Linked DNA regions of Homo sapiens: region 2 is linked to region 1. The links come from fine-mapping of genetic effects on plasma protein levels. A gene starts in region 1. The other region holds a variant in brackets. All regions are shown on one strand. Distances are from middle to middle.

Region 1 (2,913 bases):
CTCATGATCCACCGACCTTGGCCTCCCAAAGTGCTGGGATTACAGGCATGAGCCACCATGCCTGGCATGTAGGTAATTTAGTGTCTGGAAGAATGAAAGCAATGGGGAGCTATGGCAGAGCTTGAGGAAGGGGGAAATGGCAGGTACCCTTCATCTAAAAGGTAGTTTCATAATAAAAGCTAATATTTGTAAAGCATTTCCATGCACCAGGTGATGGGCTGAATACCTCACATGGGTTTCCCTTCTCAACAACCCTAAGAGGTTTACTGTTATCAACCTGGTTTCACAGAAGGGGAAATTGAAGCTTGGAGAACTCAAATCCCTCGCCCAGAGTCACCCAGCTCATAAGTGATAAAGCTGGGCTTCAGAGGCATTCAGATGCCAGAGACAAGCTCTTGATCCTTCCTTGCCCATTGAAGGCCCTGGCCTCTGTGTGGCATGAATGATGCCCATGAGACGTACTGGGGAAAGGAAAAGAAGGGGAGAAGCTGGGGAAACTGAGGAAGGCTGGCAGGAGCCCAGGTGTGATGGCGCCAGCAGCACATATCTCAAGCACCTGCTCCGAGCCAGGCTCGTGGGCACTTAGACACAGCCCATACCCTGCCCTCAAGGATCACACAGCTCACGATCACTCTAGTGCCCATGGGCATAAGACCTAGCACCAGGTAGGCACTAGACTAGACTGCCCTGAGACTGCACACACTGCACCATACACATCCCCACCCAAGGGTTCCCGGGAGGAGGAGCCAGGCCACTTACCGACTGTGTGCTCTTCAGCTTTGTACTTATGCTCCTTGGGGGCTTCCCAAGGTGGAATCTACAAGGGAGAGAAGAAGGCAGGGAACTGACTATAAGTCATAGCCTGCCACCGATCTGTTGCTAGTCTGCAGCTTCCTCTCACAGCCCAGAAATGCAGAGATTTCTTCCCAAGACCCAAACCCTTTCTACCTCCCCCCGTTGTCTTCTTAAGGCCCATCTCCCCCAGAAATGCAGGCTGTGCCCTTGTATCCACCCAGTCTGGTTGTCTGTCTCCTCTGCCTGGGCCTTCCGGGCTGGCCTCACCTTTCCACATAGGCCTCCTAGTCACCTGGACCCACAGGTCATGAGCAGAGGCCATGGCTCATGGCTGTGATAGCGACCCCCCAGAACAATCCTGGGACAATCCTGGTTCCCACAGCACTCACCGAAAGTGTTGACTCCAAGCTCACCAGCAGGAACCCCAGGAGCAGCAGAGCCCTCATGGCATCCGTCCGTTGGTCCAGCTGCCTATCCAGGAGTCCAGATCAATAGGACTGGCCAAAGGTCTTGGAAATAGAGATTGGTCAAGCTGCCCTCCTGAGCCTGGTGGGGCACAGGCTGTTTGTGGAAAGCCAAGTGGAGCAACTTCCTTGGTCACCCCTTGAGGGCCGGAAAGTTGGGAGTTTGTGGGTGGGGGTGAAATGAAGAGCTGGGCTCCTCCTCTCTTTTCTAGATAGTGGGACTGGAAGCAGAAGAAGGGACATTCTTATGCTCTGGGTCCTGTGGAGATCAGGAGGTTAAGGAGATCAAAGATCATGGGGATCTTGGAGTCCACTGTGAAGTGTGTTCATTTTCTATTGTCATGTAACAAACTACCATAAACTCAGCATCTTACAACAATACCCACTTTTAATTTTCTTTTTTTTTTTTTTTTTTTTGAGACGGAGTCTCGCTCTGTCGCCCAGGCTGGAGTGCAGTGGCGCAATCTCCGCTCACTGCAAGCTCCGCCTCCCGGGTTCACGCCATTCTCCTGCCTCAGCCTCCCGAGTAGCTGGGACTACAGGAGCCCACCACCACGCCCAGCTAATTTTTTGTCTTTTTAGTAGAGACGGGGTTTCACCATGTTAGCCAGGATGGTCTCGATCTCCTGACCTCGTGATCCACCCGCCTCGGCCTCCCAAAGTGCTGGGATTACAGGCCTGAGCCACTGCACCGGGCCATGTGTCGCCTTTTAAGAACTCACCTGACTAGGTCAGGCCCACCAAAGCCATTCTCCTTTTTTTTTTTTTTTTTGAGACAGAGTCTGGCTCTGTCACCCAGGCTGGAGTGCAGTGGCACGATCTTGGCTCACTGCAAGCTACGCCTCCCGGGTTCACGCCATTCTCCTGCCTCAGCCTCCTGGGTAGCTGGGAATACAGGCACCCGCCACCACGCCCAGCTAATTTTTTGTATTTTTAGTAGAGATGGGGTTTCACTGTGTTAGCCAGGATGGTCTCGATCTCCTGACCTCGTGATCTGCCCGCCTTGGCCTCCCAAAGTGCTGGGATTACAGGTATGAGCCACCATGCCTGGCCCTGCCATTCTCCTTATTTTAAGGTCAAACAATTTGGGACTTAAATTACATGTGCAAAATTCTTTCACAGAAGCATCTACATTCATGTTTGACAGAATAACTGGGAGGTGTGCAAACACCAGGGGTAGAGATCTTGGGGCCATCTTAGCATTCTACCAACCACAGGAAGTGAGGCAAGAAAGCAAATGATTTAATGAGAAAAGTGCTAAACCAAGGGGCACTAAGATGTGCAGCTGGAACATGAGAAGAAGACGGGGTGCACATGTGCTGCCCAGCATCTGTCCTGGTTCGGTAATGACACTTTGATTTTTCCTTTAGCAACGACTCCTCTCTTACTTCTTCCATGGGCTCTAGTGCTGCCAACTCTACCCTCAGAGCTAGGGCTAGAGATGTGGCCTAGGTCTGGTCAATCAGAGCATGACATCTCTAATCCACAGTGATTGGTTCAGAGATAAGCATATACACAATTTAGGCCAATTAAAGTGCTAGCTTGGGACTTTTGCCAGAACTTTTGGGAAAGCAAAAAAGTTGCACTGGGGTTACTAAGCACAGAGCATGTGGGTCTGAACACATTGATGATCACCTTTGTCACTCTCTAGGGA
Region 2 (2,913 bases), 65 kb before region 1:
GCTGAGGCAGGAAAATCACTTGAACCCGGGAGGCAGAGGTTCCAGCGAGCCGAGATCGCGCCACTGCACTCCAGCCTGGCGACAGGGCGAGACTTCATCTCAATAAATAAATAAATAATAACAAATGTTGGCAAGGATGTGGAGAAATTGGAATCCTTGTGCATTGCTGGTGGGAATATAAAATGGTGCAGTTGCTACAGAAAACCGTTTGGTAGTCCTCAAAAAAGTAAAAATAGAATGACCGTATGATCCAGAGATTCTACTTCCTGGGTATATACCCAAAAGAACTGAAAGTAGGATTCAAACAGATACTTGTATACCAATGTTCACTGCAGCACTATTCACAATGGCAACAGATGGAAACAACCCAAGTGTCCATTACGAATAGATGAATACACGGAATGTGGTCTAGACACACACACACACACACACACACACACACGAATATTACTCAGCAACAAAAAGGAATGCAGTACTGACATATACTACAGTATGGAGGAACGTTCAACATATGCTCAGTAAAATAAGTCAAAGAAGACAAATATTGTATGCCTCCATTTATCATTTATGTGAGATGCCTAGAATAGTCAAATTTACAGAGATGAGGTAGAATGGTGGTTACCAGGGACTGTGGGGATGGGAGTGATTGTTAAATGGGTAGAGAGTTTCAGTTGGGATGAGCAAAGAGTTCTGGAGACAGACGGTGGTGATGGCTACACAGCAATGTGAATGCACTTAATGCCACTGACCTGTACACTTAAAAATGGTTAAAATGGGCCAGGCGCAGTAGCTCACGCCTGTAATCCCAGCACTTTGGGAGGCCAAGGCAGGAGGATTGCTTGAGGCCAGGAGTTCGAGACCAGCCCGGGGCAGCATAGTGAGACCCCAGCTCTACAAAAAATTAAAAAAAAAAAAATTAGCCAGGCACAATAGCACATGCCTTGTAATCCCAGCTACTCAGGACACTAAGCAGGAGGATCACTGGACTCCAGGAGTTCGAGGCTGCAATGAGCTAGGATTGCACCACTGCACTCCAGCCTCCGTGACAAAGTGAGACCCCCCCCATCTCTAAAAAAAAAAAAATTTTTTTTTAATTTTAAAAACTGGTTAAAATGGTACGCTTTGTTACTTTTTTTTTTTTTTTTTTTTTTGAGACAGAGTCTTGCTCTGTCGCCAGGGTGGAGTGCAGTGGCGTGATCTCAGCTCACTGCAACCTCTGCCTCCCTGGTTCAATTCTCCTGCCTCAGCCTCCTGAGTAGCTGGGATTACAGGAACACGCCACCATGACCAGCTAATTAGTTGTATTTTTAGTAGAGACGGGGTTTCACCATGTTGGCCAGGATGGTCTTGATCTCCTGACCTCGTGATCCACCTACCTCGGTCTCCCAAAGTGCTGGGATTATAGGCGTGAGCCACCGCGCCCAGCCTGTGTTACATACATTTTATCACAATAGAAATATTTGAGAAATTTGACCAGATGCAGTGGCTCACACCTGTAATCCCAGCACTTTGGGAGGCCGAGGCAGGCAGATCACCTGAGGTCAGGAGCTCAAGACCAAGCCTGGCCAACATGGTGAAACCTCGTCCTACTAAAAATACAAAAATTAGC[C/T]GGGTGCGGTGGCGGGCGCCTGTAGTCCCAGCTACTAGGGAGGCTGAGGCAGGAAAATCACTTGAACCCGGGAGGCAGAGGTTGTGGTGAGCCGAGATCGCGCCACTGCACTCCAGCCTGGGCAACAGAGTGAGACCCTGTCTCAAAAAAAGAAAAGAAAAGAAAAGAAGAGAAAGAAGAGAAGAGAAAAGAAAAGGAAGAAAGATTTGAGAAATTTTCTTGCATGTGCAGATGTGTACGTACAACAGTGGAAACATTTTTTTACATAGCCATGACATCTTTTAAATGCCATTGTCAGGCTGGGCGCAGTGGCTCATGCCTGTAATCCCAGCACTCTGGGAGGGCAAGGTGGGTGGACTGCTTGAGCCCAGAGTTCACGACCAGCCTAGTCAACATGGTGAAACCCTACTTCTACCAAAAAAAAAAAAAAAAAATTAGCCAGGCATGGTGGTGTGCGCCTGTAGTCCCAGCTACTCAGGAGGCTGAGGTGGGAGGATCACACCCAGGAGACCGAGGCTGCAGTGAGCCGTGATTACACCATTGCATTCCAGCCTAGGTGACAGATTAAGACCCTGTCTAAAAAAAAAAAAAAAAAAAAAAAGCCACTCTTTCAATGTCAATGTGTAGCCTACTGAAGAAAATAGTTTCATAAATTAATGGATTTAAAGGTAAAAAGGGTTAAAGTGGTAAATTTTATGTTATATGCATTTACAACATAAAAACAACACCCCTGAAGCCTAGTAATATACCATTTATAAGAGAAAACGCTAAAACATAAAGAAATGGGAAAAAGTAAAAGGACAGGAAAAATGTATCATGCAAACACTAACCAAAAGCAAGCTTCTGCTCCTTCAGGAAGACAGGGCCACAGGCGCTGCAGAGCTGTGGTCTGCCCGCTCCTGCTCCTGCCTCACCACTGTTTGCTCTGGCTGAGGAACAAGTTGGTCAGGAAGGCTCGCAGCAGCCATGGCATGCATTTATTTATTTATTTATTTATTTATTTATTTATTTATTTATTTATTTTTTGAGACAGTCTCGCTCTGTCGCCCAGGCTGGAGTGCAGTGGCATAATCTCAGCTCTCTGCTACTTCTGCCTCCCAGGTTCAAGCAATTCTCCTGCCTCAGCCTCCAGAGTAACTGGGACTACAAGCGCCCGCCACCACACCCAGCTAATTTTTGTATTTTTAATAGAGACGGGGTTTCACCGTGTTGGCCAGGATGGTCTCGAACTCCCGACCTCAGGTGATCTGCCTGCCTCGGCCTCCCAAAGTGCTGGGATTACAGGCGTGAGCCACCGCACCCGG

Alleles and levels. Alleles are on the strand shown, and positions count from the first base shown. The strength of an association depends on the size of the effect and on how common the allele is.
As copies of C replace T in region 2, the plasma level of the protein whose gene starts at base 1,278 in region 1 goes up (moderate association).

What was found. PIP is the chance, under the fine-mapping model, that this variant and not a neighbour inherited with it causes the effect. The UK Biobank Pharma Proteomics Project read protein levels with antibody pairs (Olink). The fine-mapping took linkage between variants from a reference panel, not from the people measured, so its PIPs are less certain.
Region 2: its variant is fine-mapped to the plasma level of the F12 protein (UK Biobank, PIP above 0.99).

Annotation. Positions count from the first base shown.
Region 1 is chr5:177,408,287-177,411,199 of GRCh38, forward strand. F12 (coagulation factor XII) reads right to left here and starts at 1,278. Exons shown (of 14, transcript NM_000505.4): 1 at 1,185-1,278; 2 at 760-817. The coding sequence starts at 1,241.
Region 2 is chr5:177,343,153-177,346,065 of GRCh38, forward strand. All of the region lies in intron 2 of LMAN2 (lectin, mannose binding 2), which reads right to left. Among named protein-coding and RNA genes, the nearest start is that of LMAN2, 7.1 kb to the right of the region's middle. The variant C/T (reference allele first, on the strand shown) is at 1,610.